Homo sapiens: one gene and its partners. The protein of the gene in region 1 interacts with the protein of each later gene in a biochemical or structural test. Each region holds a gene or a part of one and is shown in the gene's direction. Other genes may lie near its edges. The genes, in order: BMPR2, GDF2, BMP2 and BMP4.

Region 1 (9,218 bases):
TTTTTTTTTGTTTGTTTGTTTTTGGAAACTGTGTCTTACTCTGTCCCCCAGGCTGGAGTGCAGTGGCGTGATCCTGGCTCACTGCAACCTCTGCCTCCCAGGTTTAAGCGATTCTCCTGCCTCGGCCTCCCGAGTAGCTGAGATTACAGTCACGAGCCACCACGCCCAGCTAATTTTGTATATTTATTAGAGACAGGGTTTCACCATGTTAGCCAGACTGGTCTCAAACTCCCGACCCCTGGTGATCTGCCTGCCTTGGCCTCCCAAAATGCTGGGATTATAGGCGACAGGTGTGAGCCACCGTGCCCGGCCTATTTTCTGTTCTAATTTGTGAAAGCTATTTGTATTAGCCATAGGTGAAAAATTTGGTTTGCACTACTTTTGTATAGGTCAAATTAGTTTCAAATATAAACTCTTATACCTTGTATATCAGCAAATCAAGAAAGTTAGACACTGGCAATTCTAATTATAAATTTTCTCACTTTACACATACCTGAGGACAGTCTTCTGCTTTTATCTCCCCTCATCTCTGTATTTCCCATGTCCTCTAGTATGATGTTTTTACCTCTCTCAAAAGTCAGCTAAAGCTTTTATTTTGAATGCTTTCAAACTTTTCTTGAATGGTAAGAAAAAAAAACCTTGATGGCCCACCTTGATTTGGCCACTTTTCGCCTCCTGTGTCATTCGGCTCAACCTTCTGCATGCATCTTCTCATCTCCAGTCTCTACTAATAATTTCCTCAAAATTATAATTCATCCCATAGTTACGCTAACTCTAGGTTTTATTTTCCTGAGTCTTACCCTCCATGTCTCCTTAGCTTCCTTTTCTTGTACTGTATAACAATTTTTTTTTCTTCTTTTCCTTCTATCATCTCCCTTATAAATAACTGTCACTCCCAAGGAATGACAATGACAGCAAAGAACCCATGATAATTGGAGAGCAGTTCTGAATCTTTGATCCTTTATTTGAACATCATATTCTGCCTTATACCTTAGGCTCAAGGACTTTTACTGATATGACTCAGACTACCCCAGAAAGATATGTGCCATTACTAGGGCATGCCTCTTAATGGAGGCCTTTGGAACAACCTAAAAGCTTATATTCTTTTTACTATTTGGCCATTGGAACTTAATTGATAACATACCTTTTGAGTAGGCACTATGCATCTAGAATTATGGAAATACAGAAAACATATACCATGGTTCTTCCTCTCATAAAACATAACGTCTGGTTGTATGAATATACATTCCATAAATATATATTTCATGATGTTATAAAACTATAGGGGAGATTTTTTAATTAACTTATAAACCAAAATAATGAACATTTATAAAAATTATATCTCATCCACATACATTTTTCAGTAGGCTTAATTCACATAAAACTAACACTTATCAAGTTATTAATTGACACTTGATTATTTGATTAGACTTTTTAACCTTTAGAAAAATGTACGTTTGGAAGAAAATGAAAAACAACTCAGACTTTAAAATCAGAGGTGTTAAATTTGGAGAGACAGTTTGTCATAAATGTACGTTCTCAATGTGATACTTTTTTTCTTTCTTTAAGCAACCTGTCACATAATAGGCGTGTGCCAAAAATTGGTCCTTATCCAGATTATTCTTCCTCCTCATACATTGAAGACTCTATCCATCATACTGACAGCATCGTGAAGAATATTTCCTCTGAGCATTCTATGTCCAGCACACCTTTGACTATAGGGGAAAAAAACCGAAATTCAATTAACTATGAACGACAGCAAGCACAAGCTCGAATCCCCAGCCCTGAAACAAGTGTCACCAGCCTCTCCACCAACACAACAACCACAAACACCACAGGACTCACGCCAAGTACTGGCATGACTACTATATCTGAGATGCCATACCCAGATGAAACAAATCTGCATACCACAAATGTTGCACAGTCAATTGGGCCAACCCCTGTCTGCTTACAGCTGACAGAAGAAGACTTGGAAACCAACAAGCTAGACCCAAAAGAAGTTGATAAGAACCTCAAGGAAAGCTCTGATGAGAATCTCATGGAGCACTCTCTTAAACAGTTCAGTGGCCCAGACCCACTGAGCAGTACTAGTTCTAGCTTGCTTTACCCACTCATAAAACTTGCAGTAGAAGCAACTGGACAGCAGGACTTCACACAGACTGCAAATGGCCAAGCATGTTTGATTCCTGATGTTCTGCCTACTCAGATCTATCCTCTCCCCAAGCAGCAGAACCTTCCCAAGAGACCTACTAGTTTGCCTTTGAACACCAAAAATTCAACAAAAGAGCCCCGGCTAAAATTTGGCAGCAAGCACAAATCAAACTTGAAACAAGTCGAAACTGGAGTTGCCAAGATGAATACAATCAATGCAGCAGAACCTCATGTGGTGACAGTCACCATGAATGGTGTGGCAGGTAGAAACCACAGTGTTAACTCCCATGCTGCCACAACCCAATATGCCAATGGGACAGTACTATCTGGCCAAACAACCAACATAGTGACACATAGGGCCCAAGAAATGTTGCAGAATCAGTTTATTGGTGAGGACACCCGGCTGAATATTAATTCCAGTCCTGATGAGCATGAGCCTTTACTGAGACGAGAGCAACAAGCTGGCCATGATGAAGGTGTTCTGGATCGTCTTGTGGACAGGAGGGAACGGCCACTAGAAGGTGGCCGAACTAATTCCAATAACAACAACAGCAATCCATGTTCAGAACAAGATGTTCTTGCACAGGGTGTTCCAAGCACAGCAGCAGATCCTGGGCCATCAAAGCCCAGAAGAGCACAGAGGCCTAATTCTCTGGATCTTTCAGCCACAAATGTCCTGGATGGCAGCAGTATACAGAGTAAGTGGAGGGATCATATAATCTCTCCTGTGTGTCTTTTGGGGCCATTTAAATAACTATTTAGAATCAACTAATAGATATATTTCAACTAGTGATTATTTACCTTTACCACTTTTGTAAATGATCCATTTGAGGCGGGGCACAGTGGCTCACACCTGTAATCCTAGCACTTTGGGAGGCCAAGGGAGGTGGATCACCTGAGGTCAGGAGTTCAAGACCAACCTGGCCAACATGGCGAAACCCCATCTCTACTAAAAAATAAAAAAAATTAGGCCAGGCGCGGTGGCTCACGCCTGTAATCCCAGCACTTTGGGAGGCCAAGGCGGGCAGATTACTTGAGATCAGGAGTTCAAGACCAGCCTGGCCAACATGGTGAAACCCCATCTCTAAAAAATACAAAAATTAGCCAGGCGTGGTGGCGTGCACCTGTAATCCCAGCCGAGATCACGACACTTCACTCTAGCCTGGGCAAAAAAGTGAAACTCCATCTCAATAATGAAATAAAATAAACCATTTGGGCCAGGCGTGGTGGCTCATGCCTATAATTCCAGCACTTTGTGAGGCCAGGGCAGGTGGATCACCTGAGGTCAGGAGTTCGAGACCAGCCTGACCAACATGGTGAAACCCCGTCTCTACTAAAAATGCAAAAATGGCCAGGCACAGTGGCTCATGCCTATAACCCAGCACTTTGGGAGGCTGAGGCAGGTGGATCACGAGGTCAAGAGTTCAAGATCAGCCTGGCCAAGGTGGTGAAACCCCTGTGTCTACTAAAAATACAAAAAATTAGCCGCGTGTGGTGGTGGGCACCTGTAATCCCAGCTACTCGGAAGGCTGAGGCAGAGAATTGCTTGAACCCAGGAGGCGGAGGTTGCAATGAGCCGAGACTATGCCACTGCACTCCAGCCTGGGTGACAGAATGAAACTCTGTCTCAAACACACACACACACACACACACACACACACACACACACACACACACACACAAATTAGCTGGGTGTGGTGGTGCCCACCTGTAATCCCAGCTACTTGGGAAGCTGAGGCAGGAGAATCGCCTTAACCCAGGAGGCGGAGGTTGCAGTGAGCTGAGATTGCGCCATTGTACTCCAGCCTGGGCAGCAAGAGCGAAACTCCATCTCAGGAAAAAAAATAAATAAGCCATTTGGTTGGGCCTCAAAGGTAATTAGACTATTGTAAAGAAAAAAGTAATATTTTTGTCATTGATAATTAAAAAGTCAGTGTCACAATAGTCAGAATAATTACCCAATTTAATATGTGCTTTATGTGGCTGCTGCTTTATAATGCAACTCACATACTTGCTATGAAAAGTTGAAATAAAGTAAATACAGTTCAAGAGCTCCAAGTAATGTTATACCAGTATAATCTTTGAAACATTTTATTGCATATATTAATATTGATTATGTCTGCATTTAGGTTTTATCAAACTAACCTTAATAAATCTTAAAGATCCAGAGAAATTTTGGGAAAATTACTATAAAGAAACTGTAGGCTAGGCACGGTGGCTCACGCCTGTAATCCCAGTGCTGTGGAAGACTGAGGTGGGTGGGTCACTTGAGGCCAGGAGTTCAAGACTAGCCTGGGCAACATAGCAAAACTCCATCTCTACAAAAAATTTAAAACTTAGTTTGGTGTGGTGGTCTGCAACCTCTGCCTCCCGGGTTCAAGTGATTCTCCTGCCTCAGCCTCCCGAGTAGCTGGGATTACAGACATGTGCCACCATGCCCTGCTAATTATTGTATTTTAGTAAAGGAGGGGTTTCGCCATGTTGGCCAGGCTGGTCTCGAACACTGGACTTCAGGTGATCCACCCACCTCAGTGTCCCACAGTGCTGGCATTACAGGCGTGAACCACTGCGCCCAGCCTATTTCTCTTTTAGACTAAGGCATTTATGAAAAAAAGTTATGTTTTATTGTCAAGGGCTACAAAATGGGCTTGAAGGAAGGATACAGGTCTCAAAACACAATCAGGAAAATTTAGCCCCTTGCTTGAGTGGCTTGTATTACAGATCAGTTGACAGACCTTTATTGCAGGGCTCTGAGTCAGTAAGACATCGTGTCAGATAGGCCAGGCATGGTGGCTTACGCCTGTAATCCCAGCACTTTGGGAGGCTGAGGCGGGCGGATCACCTGAGGTCGGGAGTTCGAGACCAACCTGACCAACATGGAGAAACCCGGTCTCTACTAAAAATACAAAAGTAGCCAGACGTGGTGGCACATGCCTGTAATCCCAGATACTTGGGAGGCTGAGGCAGGTGACTTGCTTGAACCTGGGAGGCAGAGGTTGCGGTGAGCCGAGATCATGTCATTGCACTCCAGCCTGGCAACAAGAATGAAACTCCATCTCAAAAAAAAAAAAAAAAAAATCTTGTCAGATATAGGAAGAGGAAATTATTAGAATGTTTGTACTCTAATATTTCTGTTATTCTTCTGAAAAATATTGTATGCCAGGTGCCTTTAAAATTTGATCCAGGCTGGGCATGGTGGCTCACACCTGTAATCCCAGCACTTAGGGAGGCTGAGTCGGGCACATTGCCTGAGCTCAGGAGTTTGAGACCACCCTCGGCAAGATGGTGAAACCCCCCGTCTCTACTAAAATACAAAAAATTAGCTGGTCATGGTGGCATGCGCCTGTAGTCCCGGCTACTTGAGAGGCTGAGGCGTGAGAATCACTTGAGCCCGGGAAACAGAGGTTGCAGTGAGTCAAGATCATGCCACTGCACTCCAGCCTGGGCTACAGAGTGAGACTCCATCCCCCAAAAAAAAAAAAAAAATTTGATCCACCTTGAGCATTAAATACAATTAAATACAATAATTAAGTACATTTTACCAAGTTAAGATCGCTACCAAAACCAGAAGATTTGAGAATACAGCTGAGAAGTTTAAATGTTCTCCTGTGTTTTGTGTGTGTGTGTTTTCCCTTGCCTTATAAAATAAGTCAATCAGTTATTAAAACATTTGGGTTAAAGAGTCTCAAAAATAAGTTGGTTAAGCTTTTCCTGGAAAAACATTGTCTGGCATTATGAATTTCAAGAAATGTTCATTAGCACCCTCCTGAGACATTGGTTTGACCTTTTCTTGAGTTACATCCCTTACCCGTTATTTCTTAAGTTTGTTAAATAGCTCATTTTTCTGCACTTTTATTTTCAGTAGGTGAGTCAACACAAGATGGCAAATCAGGATCAGGTGAAAAGATCAAGAAACGTGTGAAAACTCCCTATTCTCTTAAGCGGTGGCGCCCCTCCACCTGGGTCATCTCCACTGAATCGCTGGACTGTGAAGTCAACAATAATGGCAGTAACAGGGCAGTTCATTCCAAATCCAGCACTGCTGTTTACCTTGCAGAAGGAGGCACTGCTACAACCATGGTGTCTAAAGATATAGGAATGAACTGTCTGTGAAATGTTTTCAAGCCTATGGAGTGAAATTATTTTTTGCATCATTTAAACATGCAGAAGATGTTTAAAAATAAAAAAAAAACTGCTTTATCCTCCTGTCAGCACCCCCTCCCACCCCTGCAACAAAGACTTGCTTTAAATAGATTTCAGCTATGCAGAAAAATTTAGCTTATGCTTCCATATTTTTAAATTTTGTTTTTTAAGTTTTGCACTTTTGTTTAGTCTCGCTAAAGTTATATTTGTCTGTTATGACCACAGAGTTATATGTGTGTGTATCAAAAGTGGTCTCAAAATATTTTTTTAAGAAAAAAAGCAAAAACAATGTATTGCTGATAATCAGTTTGGACCAGTTTCTTAAGGTCATTAAAACAGAAGCAAATTAAGACAGGTTTGACTGCAGTGGTGTCTGGTATCCATGTTTTATTTCTGGGCACAAGCTAGTTTTTATGTTGATACGTTCCTGAACATATTATCTTGTTGGACATCTTTTCTCTTGTGTTTTGTTTGAATGTGCAATAGTTTATAGGCCACAAATAAGCTTTCTTGTAAGCTCTCTTCCTAACAGGGCACATATTCTTCCATAATATAAACACTTTTCTGCCCCATCTCCCATACTTTTGAAGGTCAGTTCTATGACAGTGAATTTTGCACAGGAGAAGCAGCTACCTGATTTCTTACTTTCTCTCTCCTTATCATGGAGAATACAGAAACATTGTCTGAAAGGGCTCTAAAGAAGGAACTACCAAAACCTGACTTGAAATGCCATTTCTTTTAACCTTCCAAATCCTAAATGTTTCCTTCAAGGCATCTTAATAAACTTATTTGCTTCTGGTTTTGGGAGTTCATAAGAGAGAATAGAACAAAATACAGGACATCAAATATTAGCCATTTCCCATTTTATTTTATTTTTCTATGTAGGTTCATGTTCCATGTTCATTTATTTAAGAAATACATTTTTATTGGTAAGCTTATAGAGCTACACTTATGGAATTTTTAAGTAGGTAAATAAATGGTTAAGACAAAATAGTGTTATAGCCTTCATTCTCTGAATAGGCCATCTTTGACTCATAAAATTACCCTTACTGTTTATTATAACTTCAGAAGTAATTTATAGTTCTGAACCTATAGTATCTTTTACCCTGTTCCCAAGCAAAGACTGGTGACTTTATCTGAAAATGATTCCTCTTCCCATGACCTAAAACACTGTGAGGAAAAATCATTCAAGTGGCATGCCAAGTCCCTATGAAGGAAGGGCTGCTATCAAACCTACCTTTTTTGAGCAAACTGAGACTAAACTTCTCTCTTTTCAAAATTGTGTTATCTTCCTTAATCCTATTTTCATAATTTTTCCTTTTGCCAGTTTTTCACATTATCTTTGATATGTGAGCAACATTTATTATTTACATTAGAGTATACCTTTTAGTAATAAAATGACTTGAAATCATATTATTTTTAAAAGCCCTTTGCTTCTTTCATTACTTATAATCTCCTCTAAAACAACCTCTGCATGTTTTTTTTAAATAAAGCACTTTCTGTCAAATAATGGACTTTTTTCTAAACAGAAATTATTTTCTATTAATTTGCAAACTGATGATTTCACTTTTTTTTACTTTTTTTTCGATTATCAGAGTACTTAGTAAATGTTATATAGTTTAGTTCTAAGATAGTTCCAGGGATTAAAAGGTTAAGAGGAAAACACAAATCACCAAATTTCTGATTTATGTTTTTATCTCCTGAACAATATTTTCTCACTCATATTCCTCTATCTTATCACTTAGCTAAAGACAGCCTAAATTTCCCAATTTTCTGTCCAAAATATTTGTGATTTACTTGTATATAAGCCTTCTCATTTGCCATGTGCTGTGATCTTACAAGTTAGATGTTACTATACCTACCATTTATTCAGCTGGATTGCTGAACACAGTTCTGGATTCATAGAATTAAGAATATCTTGTTAGTGCCCAGGATTTCCACGTTTTGTGTTTTATTGGCCCTTTTCTTTATTCAGCCCCTTAATCTATTTTCAGTCTTCTGGCACGTAATTTTTTTCACAGTTATTATTCTTCTATTAACAAATTATTTTTATCTTTCCTAGTACATTTTCACTTAGTTCTCTTGCCCTTAAATATCTTTCACATGCATTTTAGGATATTCTTTTCAAATATTTGTAGGACAACTTTGAATCAAAATAAATTATGTTCCTTCTCCAATTTGAAGCATTGAGGATAAATGACCATTTGAGGTCTAACTGATCTTTTCCTGCCAGAAGAGTTATCTTACGTTCTGCTATATTTGTATTTGGGCCAGTTGATTGTAGGTTGTCCAACATTTTTTAATATTGGGAAAATTATGATAAAATGCTTTAAAAATTAATATGCCAGATTAAAATAACTGAATAGTTTACTATTTCATTCAAGCATGTTTAAAACAAATAATTTCCTTTCACCAGTTTTTCTTAGTAAACTCCTGAAAAAGTAGGAAAGGTGGAAAGTATATATCATTTTTATAAATTTTAAATTGTACATCAGACTTTTAAAATCTGTAATATACAAGCAAGCAAAATTATTTTAAATGACTTAATTGTATGCTAATACTCATCTGATAATAAATGCTTCTTAAAGTTGACATTTAACTGCTATCACAAAGTTTTATATGTAGAAAAGTGGGGTCCTTTTGAATAAAAGATCATTCAACTAAAAATATTAAAATTTATTTCACTGGATGGTAATGTAACCTTAAAAGCATCATAATAGGTAAAGTCTAATATTAGTTCCCTTAACAAAATCCTAACTGTATACCAGAATTAGGTCACTGAAAGAACTTGATTTGAATTACGTTTAGACAAAAATGATTTAATTGTAAATTCTTAAAACTTTCTAAATGCATAATTGGCAAAAAAAAAAACCCACTGTTACCAGTGTAGGAAGTTACAAGAAGGCACATACTGAATGCTGAAG
Region 2 (4,853 bases), on another chromosome or scaffold:
AAACCAAATAGAGATAATACAGACCAAAATTGTTATCCCAGATGCTCTTCTGTCTAAACCCTGAGACTCAGCTTCAGTGTCATGGAAACAGACCCTCCAGCAGATGCCCACCACGTGTGTTTGCATTTCAGATGCCATCTCCATAACTGCCACAGAGGACTTCCCCTTCCAGAAGCACATCTTGCTCTTCAACATCTCCATTCCTAGGCATGAGCAGATCACCAGAGCTGAGCTCCGACTCTATGTCTCCTGTCAAAATCACGTGGACCCCTCTCATGACCTGAAAGGAAGCGTGGTCATTTATGATGTTCTGGATGGAACAGATGCCTGGGATAGTGCTACAGAGACCAAGACCTTCCTGGTGTCCCAGGACATTCAGGATGAGGGCTGGGAGACCTTGGAAGTGTCCAGCGCCGTGAAGCGCTGGGTCCGGTCCGACTCCACCAAGAGCAAAAATAAGCTGGAAGTGACTGTGGAGAGCCACAGGAAGGGCTGCGACACGCTGGACATCAGTGTCCCCCCAGGTTCCAGAAACCTGCCCTTCTTTGTTGTCTTCTCCAATGACCACAGCAGTGGGACCAAGGAGACCAGGCTGGAGCTGAGGGAGATGATCAGCCATGAACAAGAGAGCGTGCTCAAGAAGCTGTCCAAGGACGGCTCCACAGAGGCAGGTGAGAGCAGTCACGAGGAGGACACGGATGGCCACGTGGCTGCGGGGTCGACTTTAGCCAGGCGGAAAAGGAGCGCCGGGGCTGGCAGCCACTGTCAAAAGACCTCCCTGCGGGTAAACTTCGAGGACATCGGCTGGGACAGCTGGATCATTGCACCCAAGGAGTATGAAGCCTACGAGTGTAAGGGCGGCTGCTTCTTCCCCTTGGCTGACGATGTGACGCCGACGAAACACGCTATCGTGCAGACCCTGGTGCATCTCAAGTTCCCCACAAAGGTGGGCAAGGCCTGCTGTGTGCCCACCAAACTGAGCCCCATCTCCGTCCTCTACAAGGATGACATGGGGGTGCCCACCCTCAAGTACCATTACGAGGGCATGAGCGTGGCAGAGTGTGGGTGCAGGTAGTATCTGCCTGCGGGGCTGGGGAGGCAGGCCAAAGGGGCTCCACATGAGAGGTCCTGCATGCCCCTGGGCACAACAAGGACTGATTCAATCTGCATGCCAGCCTGGAGGAGGAAAGGGAGCCTGCTCTCCCTCCCCACACCCCACCCAAAGCATACACCGCTGAGCTCAACTGCCAGGGAAGGCTAAGGAAATGGGGATTTGAGCACAACAGGAAAGCCTGGGAGGGTTGTTGGGATGCAAGGAGGTGATGAAAAGGAGACAGGGGGAAAAATAATCCATAGTCAGCAGAAAACAACAGCAGTGAGCCAGAGGAGCACAGGCGGGCAGGTCACTGCAGAGACTGATGGAAGTTAGAGAGGTGGAGGAGGCCAGCTCGCTCCAAAACCCTTGGGGAGTAGAGGGAAGGAGCAGGCCGCGTGTCACACCCATCATTGTATGTTATTTCCCACAACCCAGTTGGAGGGGCATGGCTTCCAATTTAGAGACATAAAACACAGGCAGATCAAGTAGCATTGATCAATGGCATGATTCCAACTCAGATTTGTGGGACACCAAAGCCCAGGATCTTCCCAAGTGCCCTGCTGCAGTTTAGCAGGTCCTCTCCAGCTAAAGAGCAGTGAGACATTGGGAGCCCAGGAGTGTTGAGGCCAGGCCAGGCTGAGGCCCATCAGTCACAGGTGTGACTGGGCTGCTTGTCACACACAGGGCGTGGTCTGGCCACTGTTGCCAGTGCTCACTCAGCGGCCACATGCTTTTTAATATGACCCCTGAGGCACTGAAAAATAACCCCAGGCCAACTGCAGGATAGAGAGAGAGGTCAGGACAGCAGCCCTGTGGGCTGCATGATACACTGTGGCTGGAGTTATTGTGACCCCCTGGTGCAGTGCTCCCACGGCCAGTGGTGCACACAGGGCCATTCACTGTCCATAGACTGAAACCATGTGACCATTTGAGAGGGCCGGGCACACTTTCCCCTGAGGGATGGGGCAGCCTGTGGCCAGCACCTCTGCAGTTACTCTGCATAGCCAGCTCACCAGCATGCCATGCCCAGGGTGCCCCCCAGTGACAACCTCATGGGAGACGGGCCTGGATTTGAATTTGTTGGAATTAAATGTGCTCTGGCTTTGGTCTTTGAAACATATCTATTTTTATTCCTTGGTGACATGTCCTTAAGTGACAAGACTCCAGCCTTCCTGGGCGAGGCCTCTCCAGCCTCGGAAGAGCTGCAGTCCTTATCGGCTATCACTGGCTCTGCCTGCATTTGCCGGCTCTCTTGAGTCACGTGCATCCCAGCACCCCGCCTGGGCTCGGACTGTGGGACCAGACTCAGCCTCCCCGAACACAAGGGAAGATAAGGCTTCCATTTGCTCTGTGTTTCACCCTCTCCTCTGTCTCTCCAGGCCACACATGGAACGGGGCGGTATGAGGAAGAGTCTGAAAGTGGTGAAGAGTGCACCTATGGCCCTCTGACCTCCAGCCAGAGCAGGGCCTAGGGGAGGCTTAGAGAGGCCAGGGCCTCTCCCCGTGGTTGAAGCTCCCATTTATTTAAGAAAAAGTGGGGGGTGGGGAAAACGTTATGTTAAATGTTTACATGGAACCAATGAACAACTTTAACACACAAATACAACGAAACATTCTTGTTTAATTACTGGCGTTATAGAAAATATGAATTCCTGCTACATGCCGGGCAGTGTAGTGTTACAATGCTATTCCAAGTTGGGTGTTGAGCATCTTCTTTCAGTCCTGGTGGTGTGCTTCTGTGCCTGCTTGAAAATTTCACTCGGAAATAAAGTCAAATGTCTAATTTGCAGCCCCTCCTGAATGTGAGACCCAATCTGGAGGACCCTATAGACTCATACCCTGCCTACCCCACCCTCCAGACCCCACTGGGTTGGGCCTCCCCTTCCTAAGGAGGCAGAGGGGAGGGGCAGGCAGCCATCTCAGGACTGGGTGGATGCAGGTGGGTGGTGTCTGCACACTGGGGTGAGTGATGTGGTGTGTGCACATTGGGGTGAGTGATGTGTTTGCACACTGGGGTGAGTAATGTGTGTGCACACTGGAGTGAGTGATGCAGTGTGTGCACACTGGGGTAATATGTGTGCACACTGCAGTGAGTGATGTGTGTGCGCACTGGGGTGAGTGATGTGTGTGCACACTGGGGTGAGTGATGTGATGTGCACACTGGTGTGAGTGATGTGTGCACACATTGGGGTGAGTGACGTGATGTGCACACTGGAGTGATGTGTGTGCACACTGGAGTGAGTGATGTGTGTGCACACTGGGGTGAGTGATGTGTGCACACATTGGGGTGAGTAATGTGTGTGCACACTGGAGTGAGTGATGTGTGTGCACACTGGGGTGAGTGGTGTGTGTGCACACTGGTGTGAGTGATGTGTGCACACATTGGGGTGAGTGATGTGAAGTGCACACTGGAATGAGTGATGTGTGTGCACACTGGGGTGAGTGATGTGTGTGCACCCTGGGGTGAGTGATGTGGTGTGTGCACATTGGGGTGAATGATGTGTGTGCACACTGGGGTGAGTGATGCAGTGTGTGCACACTGGGGTAATGTGTGTGCACACTGGGGTGAGTGATGTGTGTGCACACTGGGGTGAGTGATGTGGTGTGTGCACACTGGGGTGAGTGATGTGTGCACACTGGAGTGAGTCATGTGTGCACACATTGGGGTGAGTGATGTGATGTGCACGCTGGTATGAGTGATGTGATGTGCACGCTGGGGTGAGTGATGTGTGTGCACACTGGGATGAGTGATCTGTGTGCACGCTGGGGTGAGTGATGTGTGTGCACACTGGGGTAAGTGATGTGTGTACACCCTGGGGTGAGTGATGTGTGTGCACACTGGGGCGAGTGATGTGTGTGCACCCTGGGGTGAGTGATGTGTGTGCACCCTGGGGTGAGTGATGTGATGTGCACACTGGGGTGAGTGATGTGTGTGCACCCTGGGGTGAGTGATGCGGTGTGTGCACACTGGAGTGAGTGATGTGATGTGCACACTGGGGTGAGTGATGTGTGTGCACACGGGGGTGAGTGATTCAGTGTGTGCACCCTGGGGTGAGTGATGCGGTGTGTGCACACTGGGGTGAGTGATGTGGTGTGTGCACACTGAGGGGGGTGAGTGACGTGGTGTGTGCACACTGGGGTGAGTGATGTGGTGTGTGCACACTGGGGTGAGTGACGTGGTGTGTGCACACTGAGGGGGGTGAGTGATGTGGTGTGTGCACCCTGGGGTGAGTGATGCGGTGTGTGCACCCTGGGGTGAGTGATGCGGTGTGTGCACACTGAGGGGGTGAGTGATGCGGTGTGTGCACATTGGGGTGAGTGATGTGGTGTGTGCACACTGAGGGGGATGAGTGATGTGTGTGCACACTGGGGTGAGTGATGCAGTGTGTGCACACTGGGGTGAGTGATGTGGTGTGTGCACCCTGGGGTGAGTGATGCAGTGTGTGCACCGTGGGGTGAGTGATGCGGTGTGTGCACACTGGGGTGAGTGACGTGGTGTGTGCACACAGAGGGGGGTGAGTGATGTGGTGTGTGCACACTGGGGTGAGTGACGTGGTGTGTGCACACTGAGGGGGGTGAGTGATGTAGTGTGTGCACACTGGGGTGAGTGATGCGGTGTGTGCACCCTGGGGTGAGTGATGCGGTGTGTGCACACTGGGGTGAGTGATGCGGTGTGTGCACCCTGGGATGAGTGATGCGGTGTGTGCACACTGGGGTGAGTGATGTGTGTGCACACTGAGGGGGGTGAGTGATGTGT
Region 3 (9,218 bases), on another chromosome or scaffold:
CCGTTAGCTGAGAACCTGTCCGCTCTGCCATGGTGATCTCCATTCTTCAAGTGTTTCCGGGAGACTTGGTTTCTTTGCTCAGAGCCGTGTCCCATTTAGGAAAGTACTAGGAGTTTGGGGTTCTCCCTACTTGTTTCCAGAAATGCGAGGGGTCAGTACTGAAGGATCACTTGGTACTGTGTTTTTAACAGCTGACACGTGCATTAATAGATATTCACCATTTACGTAATCCCGGGAAGATACATGTGTATCTTGACTGCACTGTGGGGATGCGGGATGGAGCTGCCTTTCGAGACACCCCTGAGGGTAGGGGCCTGGGACACAAGTCATAAGTGGCTTCAGAAGTTGTGGCCTTGAGCTTACAGGGTCTGGAAGCTATAAGGGTGTGTGTGTGTGTGTGTGTGTGTGTGTGTGTGTGTCAGGAAGTTCTATACAGTGCCTCTAAGGAAGTCACATGCACCATTTATGTGTGTTTATATGCCAGACAGCGCTCAGCACTCCGCATTTGGGTTTGTATAGGGGACGCAGGGTGTCAGATCAAGCGGTGGTTTTCCCAGGTTCCCGGCATTGGCTGTCAGCGCTGTGTCACACACAAAAAAGTGACAGTCATTGGCGCTGGTTTGGTTGGGGGGGAGGGCAAATCCCAAATCTGATGTCAGACGAGCTAAGCGTTGGATGGGAGCGATAAATCATCTGGTTCAGGAACTTGGGACCCTTCATTATCCCAAACGTTTGAGCTTCGGTCGGTCTTACCTAGACTCGTGAGTGTGCCAAGCCAGGAGGGCATCCTGGAGGAGGCACGCCAGCCAAATGGGAGACCGGGCCGCGGGGGCGCGAGGGGGGAGGACTGGGCGGGGAACTCGGGTGACTCACGTCGGTCCTGTCCGCAGGTCGACCATGGTGGCCGGGACCCGCTGTCTTCTAGCGTTGCTGCTTCCCCAGGTCCTCCTGGGCGGCGCGGCTGGCCTCGTTCCGGAGCTGGGCCGCAGGAAGTTCGCGGCGGCGTCGTCGGGCCGCCCCTCATCCCAGCCCTCTGACGAGGTCCTGAGCGAGTTCGAGTTGCGGCTGCTCAGCATGTTCGGCCTGAAACAGAGACCCACCCCCAGCAGGGACGCCGTGGTGCCCCCCTACATGCTAGACCTGTATCGCAGGCACTCAGGTCAGCCGGGCTCACCCGCCCCAGACCACCGGTTGGAGAGGGCAGCCAGCCGAGCCAACACTGTGCGCAGCTTCCACCATGAAGGTGAGGCATGGAGCAGGGCGTGGGGGCGGGGAGTCACCCTGCAAAGCCCTCCACCGTGGGCAGACTGCAGCCGTCCCTGTAGAGGCAGCTTGGCCGGGGCACCAGCGGACGTTTCCACTCTTGCTTCTGTACTATCGTTTCTGAATCTGATTTTAACTCACTGCTTGTGTGGTGGGGGAGCCAGGGATTCCCCTTTAGTAACTCCGCACCCTCTTCCTGGCTTGCAGCCAGAAGAGCTACTCCTCCTGGAAGAATTGGAGAGAAATCAAGTGATGGGGAAGATGAGGGCAAAAGGCATGCCTCTAGTCAGCTAAACGTGCAAGAATTCCACAGAGGGAAAAGGAGAAAAAGGGAGGCAGATTGAGATTTCTTTAAGTCTGTTTGGAAGCTTTTGCTCTATAAATCTGCCGCTTAAGCCAGGGTTTTAGGGTAGACAGAGCCAAGGGCAGAGTTTTCAGAGATAGTATTGAAAAATCAAAGCCCAGGGCCCCAAAGTCTTTCTAATTTATAGTTGATCTGGGCCTGGTTTGGAAGATTTTGAATCCCAATCTAATCCCCGTGGGAGATCAATACTACAATCAATCTTATTGTTTCCACAATGACTTTCTTGTCCTGTGCTTAAATCTGAGATAGGCTCTGAGTAGAGACAAGGCAAGCCTTCAGATAAAAGCGTTTGTAGCAGCTGCCTGTTTTTTTTTCATGTGCACCGAAATGTGGATTTTTTTTTCTTTTATGATACTACATGTGGTTTTTCTAAGGTGGGATATTTCTGCTTGTTTCATCAGAAGGGCATTTAGTGGACTGGAAATGTCTTACAGCAGCTATTGAGGTCTGCTGTACCTAAGTTCTTAGAGCAATTAGTCAAAAATATGTTCCACTTCAATTCTTTTTCTACACTTTTAAATGCTTCTTTGGCTTAATACATTTAAAATAGAGCATGGGTTTCTTCAATTCCTAGAAAAGAGTACAAAAGTGTATATCACAGAGCAACCACTTGGCAGATATTTGGGGAGTTGGGAGTGAAGTTCTCTTTCTTGCCTTTCCCTGCTTAGGTGGTAAATTTCAAGTGGGAAATTTACACTGATAATAGACTAATGGGAAATGGCACTTCCAGATGTTTTCTCCCAGTGTGAAGGGTGACTTATACTTGTGAGAGTATTTGTTGGTAATGGGAATAAGTCCCAAAGGCAAGCCACATAGCAGAAGATACGTTCTCATTGAGGCAGCTACACATTACGACGGGGACACTGAATTGATCATCAGTTCATTTACAAGCACATTTCTAAGTGAGGTGCTCTCTGCTAGCAGAAATCAGATTTGAAAGGCAGTAAGATCTCACTCCACTCTTTCAGAATTCATCCAATGAAAGCAGAAATCACCTGTTGTCATATGTAAAATTTGTGTGTATGTGTACATTCTGCCATCTTAACCCTGAAATGATTATAGATCCAGCTAATCATTCCCAGGTAATGCTGATTAGAATACTTTTTTTTTTGTATAGGAATGTAATAAGAACAACTGTTTTAGACACCTCTTCTGGAAATTTAGCATGGAAGCTCTCAACTTTATTTTTAAGGCCTGGAAGATGCTGTGTCTCTGTTACAACTTAAAAGGAAGATCATTTAAGTTAGTTAACACCTAAAACATTCCATTGTGTGAGGATTTTATCAGTGATGTCTGCATATTCTCATCATTCATCTAGAAGTGGTTTGATCAGAACTAAACAGGCTACACGTTATTCAACTGTGTTATTTTAACTTAAAAAGCATGCTTGAGTTTATAAAATCAGAATTTATATCTTTGTGAGTGTAAATGTTACCTGAGAAACAGTACAGAAGTGACCAACTTGATTAAAATCAACTTGTAATAACTTCAGGTCTTAATGCAGTTAGATAATGGAGAAAAGCTATGTAATTTTGCCCCAAATTTCAACTAATCCATTTCTTGTCTCATTATGACTAATATATCATCCTTAATCTGGATGGATATAGCACTTTTTTCAAGACTAATCATTGTTGTATACACCCAGGATTTGCTTTTGATAAACATCCTTGTGCCATGCATGCCACGAAAAAAGTTTTTGGTAAACCATGTGATGAAGGTTGCTGGCTCAAGAACAGAATTTAGTTTCTACAGCATTAATGAGCATTTATTTGAAAAAAGACCATAAAGACCCAATCATAAGAATTACCTGTTGGGTTTTCTTTGTAGGTGTGATCGAATGGTTTGGTGGAATTACTCGACGAGATATCATGATAGCATTCTTTCAACCAATATGAGTATAATGCGACCATATCATAGGGGATCTGAGACAGAATTATCAGTTGTATTTTTCCTATTGAATTTTGTCTAGTCCTTTCTCCAGTGGCTTTTATTTGGGAGAATATCAGCTTTGCTAAAATGTTATTGTTTTCAAGATCATTAAAAAGTGCTTCAGCTACATAGACCTTTGGAAACTGCCATTGAACATAGAAAAGTCAGTTCTGCAAGTGGAAAGAGTGTTTTGTGTATTGCTGTAGTTGGAAACACATTGAAACTGGTTGACTTCACTGGCCCTCCAAAAAGTCTTTATGCTTTTTTGTCAGATGGGAGAGAGAAAGACCAGGTGCTTCTTGTTCTCCTCACTCTGAAGGACACAGTCTTCTTTCTACATGAAATAACTGGATTATTTGCCTCTGTGACTGAAGCTTTCAAATAGAGATTAACCCTCTTTCCACAAATATAATTATTATGAAAATATCCATATAATAGAAAAGTTCAAGAAATAACTATTGCCCTGCATTAGAGACTTTGTGGCACAAATTCCCCCGTGCAAACAACAGATTTGGACACATAGATCCACCAAAACCAATACTTACCTGGTATGGTTCCCTAGTGGCCCCAGGTATTTCATTGTCATTACAGAGGCCACATTAAGTAGGAAAATTACTCTATTTGGAAATGGTTGTTGAGATTGAGGCTTTGGTGTCCAGTGATACTTCCTTGGCACTGACATTTTCCGTTCCACCTGTTTTTTAGTGGTTCCCCTAAATTTCTCTTAATCCCTTTGCAGTGAACTATTTTGCGTTCTTAGACTTGCTCTTTGTGTATTTTCACTGAGACAATAAGAGAATATTTCATCATTCCGAAGGTGTTGGTGTTAAGGGTGGGCAGAGGCCAAATCAGGGTTGTTGATGACAACCATGCTCTCTATTCCTTTATTTGCCATTCCCTTGTTGTATTTTTTTTAAAATGGAATGTTTTTAACCTTTTGTATTTGATATTTTTTTTCTCCTTGATCAGTTGTCTGTTATTTTATTATCTGGAAAATCTTATATTATACTCAGCCTCTTTCATTTTGTGTTAGGGCAGTGACTTCCAGCCTTACTGATTGCCAGCATATCCCCAGGTTTTGTTGTTGTTGTTGTTGTTTTACTGGAGATTTTTTAGCCCAAAGTGTGTTTTAAAATCCTCGAAGCATAACGGTAACTTACTTTTTTGATAAAACTTACCATACTTTATTTAGAACAAAAGGGCAGCCACAAAATAGCAGTGGCTCCTTATAAAATAGACACATTCCAGTGGGCCCCGTCACTTTTCTGCTCATTTCTGTCTGTTCTGTCCATCATACCTAAGTCATATATTTCTGTTCATTTAGTTGGGACAGAACTCACCCAATGTTATCATTGTACTAAATATAAATGTGCCCCTAATGGTTTTGACTTTTGCTTAAGTTTTTGAGTCCTCATGTATGTTAGGTAGTGCCATCTAGTAGCCAGAAATTTGGGAACTGGCTGGGCATGATGGCTAATACCTGTAATCCCAGCACTTTGGGAGGCTTAGGTGGGTGGATCACTTGAGGTCAGGAGTTCCAGACCAGCCTGGCCAACATGGTGAAACCACATCTCTACTAAAATATAAAAAAATAGCCAGGTATGATGGCCCATGCCTGTAATCCGAGCTAATTGGGAGGCTGAGATGGGAGGACTGCTTGAACCTGGGAGGTGGAGGCTGCTGTGAGCCAAGATTGTGCCACTGCACTCCAGCCTGGGCAACAGAGTGAGACCCTGTGTCACAAAAACAAGAAACAAAACAAAACAAAAGACAAGAAACCTGAGAAGCGCAGTAGATTCAATTATATATATCTACTTTTAATTTGCTAGCTCTGTGACCTTAGGAAAGTTACATAACCTCTCTGAACTGCAACTGTTTCATTTACAAAATGGAGATAATGATAGTTTTTCTCTAATTGGTTTGTTGTGAGATAATTCATATAAAGCTGATGGTGCCAGATTACACTCAAAAAAAGCATTCAGCTGTCATTATCATTATGACTTCTTTTGTTAATGTTATAGCCTTTCCTTCTCTAGGGAAAAGGAGGCCAGAGTGGACCTAGGCTGACTGAGAGAATTCAGCTCAGTCTTTTGAATTATTTTGAGGTAGAGGAATGATTGATATAGTATAGATTATTAAATTAGGACTTCACTTTTGGAGAAAAGTTCAGATATCATTGTTGTCTTATTTTTCTTCACTTTCCCACATTTTTGCAGCCATAGCTCCATCCATTTGGTTAAGAACTTAGAAGCTCACAAACTCGGGTCAAAGACAGGTCGAAATCCTCAAATCCCTTAAGAACTTCAGCTTATTCAGGAAGGGATATTTACAGAAAACTAGCAATTGTATAAGTCTCCAAAAAAGCATACATTACTTGAGGATCCATATATTTTTGGCATCCTCAGGGTTGCTGTGATGATTTATAGAAGGTTTGTTTATTTAATTTACTTTATTTCAAATAGGTTTTAATTTTTGTACCCTTAAGAAAAGATTCGTACTCTTCCCTGGCAGATTAAAGAAAATGAGCGTATATTCCCTAACCTTGGCCAGTTACTTTCCTGGGTTTGAGGGTTTCTGTGAACGTCTAACTTACCTCTGTGACCTGTTTCTGCAACCAGGGGTGTTGCAATGGATGCTTTTGTCTTGAGGATGGGACCTTTCAAGAAACAGATTCACTGAGGTGCAGTGGGAAGGTCAGAGAAAGATCTTCGTATCGCCTATTATTATTTGCTCGTCTATTTTTTCTCCTTTCTTAAGGCCACTAACTGATTCTCCTTTGCTAAGGCTGCCTACTTCCACTGAGACCTTGAACCACATGAAATTGTTGTTGTCTGTGTTTCTGGTCAAATAGTGGCAATTTTGTATGATTCAATCTTGTCATTTAATTTTTTGGGAGGTTATTATTCTATTTCATACCTTTTTTATACCCATCTTCTTTACTTCATTTACCTGTCCCTCATACTTGACTTGTAGCTTGTCCCTTCACTGTCATCGTCTGGCCATGTGGGTGTGTACGTGTGTGCGAGAGAGAGAATGTGTGAGAATGTATGTTTCTTTATGCATTGGGATTTAGGGTTTTTCTTGCAATTGTGATTTCTCTGGGCACTTTTGTTAATATAGCTAGTCAGCGAGTGCTCTAGATAATTTTCCTTGCCTCCCCCTCTTTGAAAGAAAAGAGGGTGTTCTTAGATGTATTCTTATCAGATAAGCCAGTAGCTCAGGTGCTGGTCTGGCTTTGGTGTCATTGGGGTCTGAGGTTGCTGACTTTTACCTTCTCTGCTGAAAAATTACCTTCAGCAGAAACGTCTGAATTGCAAGGAGAAGGAGAAAAAAACAGGCCAAACACAGTCCTTGGTACTCCTTGGGAGCCACTGAGAAGAGTCCAGGTTCAAATGGTCAGAAGGTTATTTTAATGATTGTGTCTGGCCTAAAGTACCATTAGCTTCCAGTGGAGTTTAGAATGTGGATGGATCCTGAAAGGTATTCCCCAGAGGTTTGGATTAATAGGCACAAGGGAACCCTAAAGGACTCTATTGGCCTGATACTCCCCATATCCACGTAGAAGAGCTTTAGAAGAACCTTCTGTTCTGAGACCCTGGCTGGGCCCACCCAGAGCTGGCCCATTCAACTCTTACTCCTTTGCCACCACTAATGGTTCTTCTACTAGTTTTTATATTATTTAACAAAAAGGCACTTTAAAAATGCACTCCTGGCAATCTATACTGGAATATGAAAAACATGCTGCAAAACCTTGACACTCCAAGTGTGGTCTTACAGTTCCCAGAATCCCCTCCTTGAGGAGCTGCTAGAAATGCTGAATCTCAAGCATCTCCCCAGACCTACTGAATCAGAGCCTGCATCTGAAGCTTTACGGTGTACAAGCTGTTTTATGTGAAGGCTGAAGTTTGAAAAGCACTGCATTAAAGCGTTAGTTTGGTATAAACTGCCCTGACTGAACTTGGTGTGTCCACTTAGCTTGCATGATGACTGTTGCTTTGATGATGAAGGCTTACACGGGTAGATCCTTTGAGTGAGTGATCTGACATGATTCTCCTTTGCTAAGGCATCTAGATTCAGTGCACAACTTACAGCTGTTTGTCTTTAGGGGAAATACAACTGTAAAATTAATAAAAACATAGTCTCTTCTTATGATAACATGGAACGATGGCAAAATAGATTTTGTTAGCACTTGGGTAGGAATTCTGAATGAAGCAGGCAAATTCTGTTGGCAGTGAAATGATAGGATGTGGTAAAGTTAGAATAAAATAAACTTAAATGTCTCAAACTCTCATGGTATATACTACCAGTTTAATAATAATGTTGTACCTTTGATGATTTGCAGACTACAAGCATTCAAGGTGCTGTGTTATATATTACTTGCTTGGAGAATAATACTTCTTAAAAATTGAAATTCAGAAATTTTAAATCAGACAAAGCTTTTGTGCATGGCCCACTTAAATGGCTATTTTGAAATAATGATAGTGGATATAGAAGGATTATTCTGTAATAGGATGAGACTGTTCCTTTTGTCATGGAGATCATAATCATATTTTTGTAAATTTTTATTATTTTTTTGGTTTTGTGTCCATCCTGCACACTATTACTGGGTAGGTACATGGTTTTTTAACATGGTTTATCTTTCAAAACTATAAAGGCATTGCAAACAGAAGACAGGTCATTTATTTTTCTTCCAAAAGCATCTAAAATGAGATTTTGATATTTGAGGTCATAAAGAGGTGAGAGAACAGACAACAGTTGGGAAAGCTATTTCTCTTGAAATTGTTTGGCCTTAATTACTACAGTGTCCTAGTACCACCCATACGTTTCCAAAGAAGTAGATCCCTGTAAATGCCTTTGTCTCTGGACTTTTGAGTAAAATAGTAGGGTGTGCTTTGCAAAATGTCATCGTTGATGTTGAGTTTCAGAGTCTTTAATTAGGAAGCTGAAATCTGTATATCGAGATTTGTAAATCATCTAAATTGCAGAGTAATGTTTTAGAATACTGCTTAAGGGATTGGCATTAAAGCCTTTTTTAAAAAAGAAATGCAATAATTTCCTCAAATCCTCACTCATTAGACCTCTACTAACTATAGTGCTGACTTTTTTTTTTTTTTACCCTAAAGTCTGGAATTCCAAAGAAATGCTTCACCATTTCCCCCATTATTATAGCCACCTGGAAGCAGTATTCATGTATTAGATCAAAAACACAACAAAGAATTATGAAAGGTTGTTTCCTGGTATGCAATGCATGATGACATGAACTTACAGAACAGAGAGAAGGGAGGCTCCATGTTTATTTAAAGAGGAAATTTTTATTTTCTGGTTACCTACTTTTACATGGGTTACATCAAATCCCACGATGAGGTTTAAAAATTCTCATAGATAATCAAACGTCATTACTTGGCTTACTGAAATTCAGACTTTTCTTTTTTCTTCCCTGTTTTTCTCTATCAAATTAGAATCTTTGGAAGAACTACCAGAAACGAGTGGGAAAACAACCCGGAGATTCTTCTTTAATTTAAGTTCTATCCCCACGGAGGAGTTTATCACCTCAGCAGAGCTTCAGGTTTTCCGAGAACAGATGCAAGATGCTTTAGGAAACAATAGCAGTTTCCATCACCGAATTAATATTTATGAAATCATAAAACCTGCAACAGCCAAC
Region 4 (9,285 bases), on another chromosome or scaffold:
CATATCCATGCCCTGTCTGCCATCCACGTTAAACATGTTATGACATAAAAACAGTCTTTTCATCTGTCTGATATCACTGGGGGTTCATTTAGAAGTCTCTGTCCATTTTGGATTTTTGTTTGTTTGTTGTTGTTTTTGTTGTTGTTTTTGAGACAGAGTCTCACTCTGTCGCCCAGGCTGGAGTGCAGTGGCGTGATCTCAGCTCACTGCAAGCTCCGCCTCCTGGGTTCACGCCATTCTCCTGCCTCAGCCTTCCGAGTAGCTGGGACTACAGGCGCCCGCCACCATGCCTGGCTAATTTTTTATATTTTTAGTTAAGATGGGTTTTCACCATGTTAGCCAGGATGGTCTCGATCTCCTGACCTCGGTATCCACCTGCCTTGGCCTCCCAAAGTGCTGGGATTACAGGTGTGAGCCACCGCACCTGGCTTGGATGTTAATATTGAAGGGTTTTTATAGAAAGGACCATATTCCAGAAAGTATCAAGGCAGCAATTTAAAACATAGGGAACTGAAATAGCATTGGATTTTCTTTTTGTCATGAGAAAATATCAGCATCCAGTATTATTTACTTTGAGTGAGGCATATCAAAGGTTGGCAACAATATTAAATGTTTAGAGAAGGAACAACTTGTGCAATTGGGTTAAAAGTTCATCTTTAGATCAGAATAAAGAAAATGAGTTTATGTTTTAGCTTGAGGGACAGGAAAAAAAATTCTTAAAAGTTAGAGGTGTTAGGAATCCGCAAAACAGACGGAGAATGCTTTTTGGACATGTCATTCAGTCTCAGCCTATTAGTAAAAACTAATTGCTCAGAGTAGGTATGATTTTGACAGTGAGTAGTTATCTTGGCACAGCTATGTTCATGGGTCAGATCTATATAGACAAAGCATAATGAGTGGACATTGGAGATTAAGCAATTTGACTGTGATTTTAACTACCAGGATATATTGTCTCTGTATTCCAGAGCCTGAGAAAGACCTGTGAGGACCCTGTTCAAGCTCCACATTTTACAATGAGGAAACTTGGACCCAGCAGAGATAATGAGCTCCTTTCTCAAGATCATAACCTTTTTCTCAGGAAAGGTCACATAAAAGTCTTGCCCTAAGGCGGGCTTATATAGTAACGTCAGGAAGAAACAAACTTCTAGGTCTTGATTTTGTTTTGTTATCTAAGAACTTGGGAAGATATCCTGAAATTCCTGGTAATAGCATGCTGCCAGGATGGAGCAGCAGCTGGTGCCTTGGCCTGGGGAAAGCTTCCAGGATAAGCCTCGGGGATCCATCCACAATACCCCTCACTTGCCCAGGGAGAGGAGACAGACTGACATGGTTTGGACTTGGGGTCCACCACTTTCTAGCTTTGTGACCTTGAGCAACTTACATAACGTCTCTAAACTTCAGATTCTCATCTGTAGGACAGGGATTTTATAAGGGTTGTTGTAAGGGCTAGAGATATATAGGGCAAATATATAAGATATGATAAATATTAATAAGAGGAAAACTAAATTTCTAGCCAATTTCAGAGACCACTTCCAATTCCAATTCGAATTCGAATTCCAATTCCAATTGATCTATCTTACTGCTTCTCAAAACTTAGCAGTGATTCTGGGAATTCCTTCCGTAGCTTCACCAGACACCTAATTGGCCAAGAAGGTTTGAAGACCTGATGTGGTTCTTAATTGGGGATGGGGAATTAAGGGCTACTGTATCTATAGGATTATCTTTTCACTTGCATAGACCTATTTGGTGTGTTCAGGGCATAGTGATACTATAATTGCCATATTTAACAGTTTATAAAGTTCAAGCCCAGCATATTCTTTGCCTGTTTAATGATGTCTTGGTATCAGCCTTTTAATGGTACTTATCAGCATAGAAAATGGAAACAAAATAACTTTTAAAACAGTAGCTCTCAAGCTTTAGTGTGCTCAGAATGACCAGAGAACCTTGTGAAATATACAGATTTCTGGGTCCAGATCTGGGGCAGGACCAGGAAGTCTGCATTTCATCTGCACCCCCACCCTACTCTGAGGCTTATAGTCCTGAGAACATGCTTTGAAAAAGGCTGTCCCAAGGGCTCGCAGACAGGCTATTGACCAGCTACTCTTTCTTGATGTTCTCCAGGAAAAACCCAACAAAGGAATGCCTTTCATTGAGTAGTAGCAGCATAGGAGCAATAGTTGCTCCTGAATTATGGTGGGTTTCCCCTCTTCATCAATGTGCTTTAAGGGTACAGTTTCATTTGGTCTATCTACCATGTTCTATAAAAACATGAAAATTCACAGGTAAGTTTGAGATACAGAAAATAACTAAACTGATTCTTCTCACGAACTCTGATCACTAGGCTGTGGTTGATTTAGCTCTCTAACCAACAAGTAATTTGTTCTTTGGCATGAGTAAGGGGGGAAAAGGAGGAGTGGGTAAAAGCAGCTGATAACAGATGGCTTGCGCCCATCTAAAATGTGGGGAGAGAAATAAAGCTGTCCCAAGAGAACTAAAGCTGAGTTCTCTCGTCATATATCTGAAGATTCATATCAGGGGTCTAAACATGGTATGTCGGGTAGCTTAATTGGAAACTCCTGGACTGTGAGTGTCACAGACTCATGGATGGGCCAATCAGTGGCCACTTTAGTGTCTGGGCTGCAGCAAAATGAGACAATAGCTGTCATTCAAAAACCTTTGGAATTAAAAAAACCCCGAAATGACATTGGTGCTTTAAAGTAAAATAAAGTCCTGCCTTTAAGTCCAGCATATCACTGTTGTTTCTGAGTTTAAATATTAAGAACCACATTTCGTTAATGATTAAAACAACAGTGATTGATTTAGGGGCTCAGTGAGCATTTAATCTGTCCTGACTTCAGGTACCATGCTAAAGGAGCACAATGCCTGATGCTGCAGGAGAAACATTAGGTAACTATTTAATGGAGTTTTAATTTTCTGTTATTATTTTTAATAATTAATTGTGATTTTGACTATTTGGAAGCTACAGGTATATTTTGTCCTCCTTTTGGGGTGGTGTTATTGCCCTGCCCTGTTTTAATCAGTGGTTCTTAGAGAAAGTGAACTCAGGAGTGACTTAAAATGAAGGAAGACGGACTTTGGCTAAAATTACAATTAAATAATCAAATCATTTTCAAATATAAAGGGAGCATGCAGATGATCTGGCCCAATCCTTTCATTCTGCAGATGAGAAAACTGAGACTCATAGGAATGAAAAGACTTGCCCAAAGCCATACAGCTTGTTTCTGTTGTTTGGTGCATTAGGCCAAAAGACCTAGGCCTAATAGATGGAAAAGATGGCAGGATGTCTTGGCCTTGCTCTGACAGTTGCTTCTCTGATCTCAGATATTTCCCACCCTTTGTAATCTGTGTTCCACACAGGAAGTAGTTCTTGTTTTTTAAATATCGAAGGTGTATAAACGTAAAGTTTTTATAGATGAGCCACCCAGGGCCAATATCTGTTTAAGTAAAGACCTAAATGCTTTGCAGAGACAGTAAAGTGTCATGTCTGTCCCAGGGAAAGAAATCCAGGACAGGAAATGCTCAGTCTTCCAGCACTCCTCTGGCTACCTGGAGCTCAGGCTATGAGCCTCAACCCCTCCCTGAAGCATTAGCTCTGGAGCAGAGGCTGTGATTTACTTCAGAGATCTGGGCAAGTCCCTTTAACCTGGTAGTCCTGCCTTTCCTTGTTTGTAAAACAGAGAGATGAGGCTGATAGCTCCCTCACAGCTCCATCAGAGGCAGTGTGTGAAATTAGTTCCTGTTTGGGAAGGTTTAAAAGCCACCACATTCCACCTCCCTGCTAATATGATTACTAAAATGTTTTTATATGAAAGGGCCAATTCCTCATCTCCCCTCTTCCTTTAAAAACAGACCAAGGGGCATCTTTTCTTGTCTCCCTGTGGCCTAAAAGGTTACTGCTTCTGTGGTTATCTCCTTGGAAAGACAGAGTGTCAGGACTCTTAGGTACACCAAAAATGAACAAAAAAATCAACAACAACCATAACACCAACAAAAATAACTGCTGTGTCGGTTCTTAAGACGGCTTCTGAGCTAGAAACAGATTTTTCTAACTGTAAAAAACGTGGCCCCAGCCTGTCTGCAGGCCACCTCTGTCTTTAGGCCTTGGGGGGAGGAGGGAAGTGAGCTCATTTACTGGGGTCTACCTCAGGGTCATCACCAAGGTGTTCTACAAAACGCACTTTAAGAATGTTTTGGAAGGAAATTCACCTTTTAACAGCCCAAGAGGTATCTCTCTCTGGCACACAGTTCTGCACACAGCCTGTTTCTCAACGTTTGGAAATCTTTTAACAGTTTATGGAAGGCCACCTTTTAAACCGATCCAACAGCTCCTTTCTCCATAACCTGATTTTAGAGGTGTTTCATTATCTCTAATTACTCAGGGTAAATGGTGATTACTCAGTGTTTTAATCATCAGTTTGGGCAGCAGTTACACTAAACTCAGGGAAGCCCAGACTCCCATGGGTATTTTTGGAAGGTACGGCGACTAGTCGGTGCATGCTTTCTAGTACCTCCGCACGTGGTCCCCAGGTGAGCCCCAGCCGCTTCCCAGAGCTGGAGGCAGCGGCGTCCCAGCTCCGACGGCAGCTGCGGACTCGGGCGCTGCCTGGGCTTCCGGGACCCGGGCCTGCTAGGCGAGGTCGGGCGGCTGGAGGGGAGGATGTGGGCGGGGCTCCCATCCCCAGAAAGGGAGGCGAGCGAGGGAGGAGGGAAGGAGGGAGGGGCCGCCGGGGAAGAGGAGGAGGAAGGAAAGAAAGAAAGCGAGGGAGGGAAAGAGGAGGAAGGAAGATGCGAGAAGGCAGAGGAGGAGGGAGGGAGGGAAGGAGCGCGGAGCCCGGCCCGGAAGCTAGGTGAGTGTGGCATCCGAGCTGAGGGACGCGAGCCTGAGACGCCGCTGCTGCTCCGGCTGAGTATCTAGCTTGTCTCCCCGATGGGATTCCCGTCCAAGCTATCTCGAGCCTGCAGCGCCACAGTCCCCGGCCCTCGCCCAGGTTCACTGCAACCGTTCAGAGGTCCCCAGGAGCTGCTGCTGGCGAGCCCGCTACTGCAGGGACCTATGGTGAGCAAGGCTACCTGGTGAGGGGAGACAGGCAGAGGGGGTCTAGGAGCCTCCTTGGGGGGAAGAAGCTGGTCACAGGCTGTGACCGAGGCAAAAGGTGGCCTAATTATTTTCCAATAGTGGTGCTGGAGGTGGGGATGCTGGCGCTGAAAGACCTTTAAATATCGGCTACTGCCCCTGCCCAGGCCTTCTCTGTCCAGCAGTCCCTGGGAGATTCTCACCTTTGGGAAGTGCGGGGCAGGAGAGCAGAAACAAGAGAAGCCCTTGGTAGGGGGGTCGTTGGGAAAAACTGTGGGGTCTTGGGCTGAACGCGTTGCCCACGGGCTGGAGGTTGCGATCCCCGGACGGAAAGCGCGGGAGGAGGAAGGAGAGAACCGGCTCTGAGGTCCAGAGAGAGTGAGGGGGCAGAGCGACGGCGAGATGGGGAGAGAACACCTAGCTGGAGCAGGTTCTGCGGTAGAGAGCGCAGTCCTGCTGGCCTCTGGAGAGTGCGCGCCGCTCCGGAGGCTGCGTCGAGGGGAGTGTCACCCAATCTGGCCCCCAGCTGGCGGGGCGCCCTGAGAGCTTGCGAACTGCAGTTGCAGGACGCGCCTTCTCCACGAGCTATTTTCGTCGACTTGCGGAACCCAAGGAACCTCGCCTCTATCATTTCACGGTGTAGGGTCCCTAGAGACGACAGCCAAGATCCCAGGGGCTCCCAGGACGCTTGTTCCTGCGGTGTCGTGTCCTATGGGGAGTTCCTGGCGGGACGAAAGGCGGACGCGCGGCTCTTCCTGGCCCTCCAGGCCCGGAACCGACGGGAAAGGTTCCCGTGATTCCCGAGTCCCTGCAGGCTTCTTCCAGCGGGAGTTGGTCCGGGGGCCTTAGAGGCCTCCAAGCACTGCTTTGGAGGATGGTTTCCAAGGATCGCGGTTTGTGAGTTGAAGGCTTTGTGAGAGGTTAAACCCCCAAAAGATACATACTTGGTAAACTGAGGCTACCTGTAAACACATTTCGGCATTAGGAGAAGATTCGAGTAGGGAAGTGAAGGACAACCACCCCGAGTTACATTCCTTTCCCCCAATAAAAAGCTCTGGGGATGAAAGTTCTTTTGGCTTTTATCTTTTCGATTTAAAAATTTGAGAAGAAAAATGTGACTAGAGATGAATCCTGGTGAATCCGAAATTGAAACACAACTCCCCCTTCCCCTTCCTATCCTCTCGGTTTTAGAACCGCGCTCTCCCGCCCCAGGAGATTCCTTGGGGCCGAGGGTTTTCCGGGGAACCCGGGCGCCCGCCCCTTCTACTGTCCCTTTGCCCCGCGGGCACAGCTTGCCTCCGTCTGCTTTCTCTACTTCTGGACCTCTCCTCGCCGGGCTTTTTAAAGGGCTTCTGCGTCTCAAAACAAAACAAAAAAACCCTTTGCTCTTCCCAACCCTTTCGCAGCCCGCCCCAGCGGTGGCGCGGGACCAGCAAAGGCGAAAGCCGCGCGGCTCTTGCCGGGCGCGGACGGTCGCGCAGGGGCGCCCGCGGCCTCCGCACCCGGACCTGAGGTGTTGGTCGACTCCGGGCATCCACGGTCGGGAGGGAGGGCTGAGCTGTTCGATCCTTTACTTTTCTTCCTCAAAGTCTACCTGCCAATGCCCCTAAGAAGAAAACCAAGTATGTGCGTGGAGAGTGGGGCGGCAGGCAACCCGAGTTCTTGAGCTCCGGAGCGACCCAAAGCAGCAACTGGGAACAGCCTCAGGAAAGGGAGGTCGGGTGGAGTGGGCTTTGGGGCAGGAGTCATGGGGCCCGGGCCCCGGGGACGACCTGGCGCTCCCGGCCCTGCTGAACGCTGAGTTGCGCCTAGTCGGGTTTTCGAAGAGGCCCTTGCGCAGAGCGACCCACGCGCGCGGCAGCATCTTCGATTAGTCAGGACATCCCAGTAACTGCTTGAACTGTAGGTAGGTAAAATTCTTGAAGGAGTATTTGCTGCGTGCGACTCTGCTGCTGGTGCAACGGAGGAAGGGGGTGGGGGAAGGAAGTGGCGGGGGAAGGAGTGTGGTGGTGGTTTAAAAAATAAGGGAAGCCGAGGCGAGAGAGACGCAGACGCAGAGGTCGAGCGCAGGCCGAAAGCTGTTCACCGTTTTCTCGACTCCGGGGAACATGGTGGGATTTCCTTTCTGCGCCGGGTCGGGAGTTGTAAAACCTCGGCCACATTAAGATCTGAAAACTGTGATGCGTCCTTTCTGCAGCGACGCCTCTTTCTGAATCTGCCCGGAGCTTCGAGCCCCGGCGTCTGTCCCTCAGCCTGGCATGGCTTCTTCGGGGGTCTGCTTTGCATGGGGAGAGGGGCCACGCAGCGGCGGACTAGGTTTGGGGATTCTCGGTAATGGACCCGGAGCAATGACTAACAGCCGCTCCCTCTCACTTTCCCACAGCGATCACCCTCTAACACCCTCCCTCCCATTCCCGGCCCCGCGCGTGACAAGGTCGGCTGCTTTCAGCCGGGAGCTAGATCGGTGGCCCGGCTCTTCGGAGCCTTAGCAGGCGTTCGCCAAGGGGTGACTGGCTGTCATTGGGAGCAATATTTGGCCTTGAGGAGACCCTGGGGAGGAAGTGGCGGGGAGCTCGTGTTTGCTTGTGTGTGTGTGGGGGGGTGTGTGTGTACACGCGCGTGGGCAGGGTCCCTCTGCGCTTTCCTTTTTAAGTGCCTCTCGGTGGTGAGGCTTTGGGCGGGTGAGACTTTCCCGACCTCGCTCCCGGCCCCACTTAAGCCGGGTTCGAGCTGGGAGACGCAGTCCCTTCAGTGCGCCCCAAATCCTCTGGCTTCAGGTGGCCCGGCGCGGGGGCCCAGCACGACGCACCGCGCCGAGAACCGGGTTCTCCGTGCGCTGCGCCAGTAGCCCTGGGAGCGCGGCGGCCGCGGGGCACCGGCCGAGGGCTCTGCCGAGCGCCGCCGGGAGCTCCTCCCGGACCGCTGAGGCTCGGGCGGCGGGCGCGGAGGTTGGCCTCGCCTGGAGGGGCGGGCCCGCGAGGGGCGGGGGGCTGTGGAGGAGGGGAGGGCGCGCAAGCCCTTTCGCCGCCTGCCGCGGGAGGGGCCTCGGCGCTCACGTGACTCCGAGGGGCTGGAAGAAAAACAGAGCCTGTCTGCGGTGGAGTCTCATTATATTCAAATATTCCTTTTAGGAGCCATTCCGTAGTGCCATCCCGAGCAACGCACTGCTGCAGCTTCCCTGAGCCTTTCCAGCAAGTTTGTTCAAGATTGGCTGTCAAGAATCATGGACTGTTATTATATGCCTTGTTTTCTGTCAGTGAGTAGACACCTCTTCCTTCCCCCTCCCCGGAATTCACTCTGCCCTCACCACCCCTGCTCGCCGGCTGTCCCTTCCGTCGGACCTCCTTTACAATATCCACACTCTGCTCCCTGGCAGCACTGTCGCTCCCTTCTTGGCCCGGCAGCCGGGGCGCTGGAAGCGTACGGGTTCCTTTTAAAGTGCTGCTAGCGCGCACTCGCCCTCTCAGCGTTGCAAGAAAGGGGAGCGCGAGGGAGCTAAAGAGATGAAAGCCCGGGGTTGTACCTTGAGGGCTAACCACTCCCTTCCCCTATCCAACTTGTCTGGGAGAGCCCCCAGTGTCTCCGTGGCGCGTTCCCACTCTCTTGTCAAAACTCACAGAGGTCTCTCCGGAATCGTCTCTCACCCCTTCCCTGGGGATGAGCGGGCACGATCAGGCACTTTTGGCTGAATATTTCAAACTCATCGGCCACAATAAAATAAGCCCTCAAGCCACCCGGTTAGCTCCCAGACCACCTTCTCGGCTTCTGGACCCTGTCGCCCTCTGTCTTCGCCCAGCCCCTGCCTCTCACTTTCCCTCCCTCTGGCTCTGAACCAACTGGAAGTTGTGAAAGTTGGGCTCTGAGGGTGGAGGAAAAGGGAGAGAAGCTGAAGGTCTAAAGTGGAGAGCAATGCCATTTTAATTCTCCCTCCCCCACCCCTTTTCACCCCCTCAATGTTAACTGTTTATCCTTCAAGAAGCCACGCTGAGATCATGGCCCAGATAGCAGTTAGGACAAAAAAAGATTAACAGGATGGAGGCTATCTGATTTGGGGTTATTTGACTGTAAACAAGTTAGACCAAGTAATTACAGGGCAATTCTTACTTTCAGGCCGTGCATGGCTGCAGCTGGTGGGTGGGCGGGTGGTGTGAGGGAGAAGACACAAACTTGATCTTTCTGACCTGCTTTCC

What was found.
Region 2: the proteins of BMPR2 (region 1) and GDF2 form a complex in vitro, tested with the Homo sapiens proteins (2 studies listed by BioGRID).
Region 3: the proteins of BMPR2 (region 1) and BMP2 form a complex in vitro, tested with the Homo sapiens proteins (4 studies listed by BioGRID and IntAct, with this or other methods).
Region 4: the proteins of BMPR2 (region 1) and BMP4 form a complex in vitro, tested with the Homo sapiens proteins (2 studies listed by BioGRID).

What each region holds. Positions count from the first base shown.
Region 1 is NC_000002.12:202,553,683-202,562,900, forward strand, and holds part of BMPR2 (bone morphogenetic protein receptor type-2 precursor), read left to right. Parts: intron 1-1,569; coding exon 1,570-2,849; intron 2,850-6,013; coding exon 6,014-6,264; 3' UTR 6,265-9,218. UniProt on the Homo sapiens protein: On ligand binding, forms a receptor complex consisting of two type II and two type I transmembrane serine/threonine kinases.
Region 2 is NC_000010.11:47,324,710-47,329,562, forward strand, and holds the end of GDF2 (growth/differentiation factor 2 preproprotein), read left to right. Parts: intron 1-131; coding exon 132-1,075; 3' UTR 1,076-2,879; downstream 2,880-4,853. UniProt on the Homo sapiens protein: Potent circulating inhibitor of angiogenesis. Signals through the type I activin receptor ACVRL1 but not other Alks. Signaling through SMAD1 in endothelial cells requires TGF-beta coreceptor endoglin/ENG.
Region 3 is NC_000020.11:6,769,230-6,778,447, forward strand, and holds part of BMP2 (bone morphogenetic protein 2 preproprotein), read left to right. Parts: intron 1-890; 5' UTR 891-897; coding exon 898-1,243; intron 1,244-9,015; coding exon 9,016-9,218. UniProt on the Homo sapiens protein: Growth factor of the TGF-beta superfamily that plays essential roles in many developmental processes, including cardiogenesis, neurogenesis, and osteogenesis. Induces cartilage and bone formation.
Region 4 is NC_000014.9:53,952,342-53,961,626, reverse strand, and holds the start of BMP4 (bone morphogenetic protein 4 isoform a preproprotein), read left to right. Parts: upstream 1-4,801; 5' UTR 4,802-4,806; coding exon of another isoform or gene 4,807-4,868; 5' UTR 4,869-5,077; intron 5,078-5,298; coding exon of another isoform or gene 5,299-5,726; exon of another isoform or gene 5,727-7,445; intron 7,446-8,226; coding exon of another isoform or gene 8,227-8,351; intron 8,352-9,285. Other genes in the region: uncharacterized protein LOC124903317, read right to left, coding at 5,299-5,726.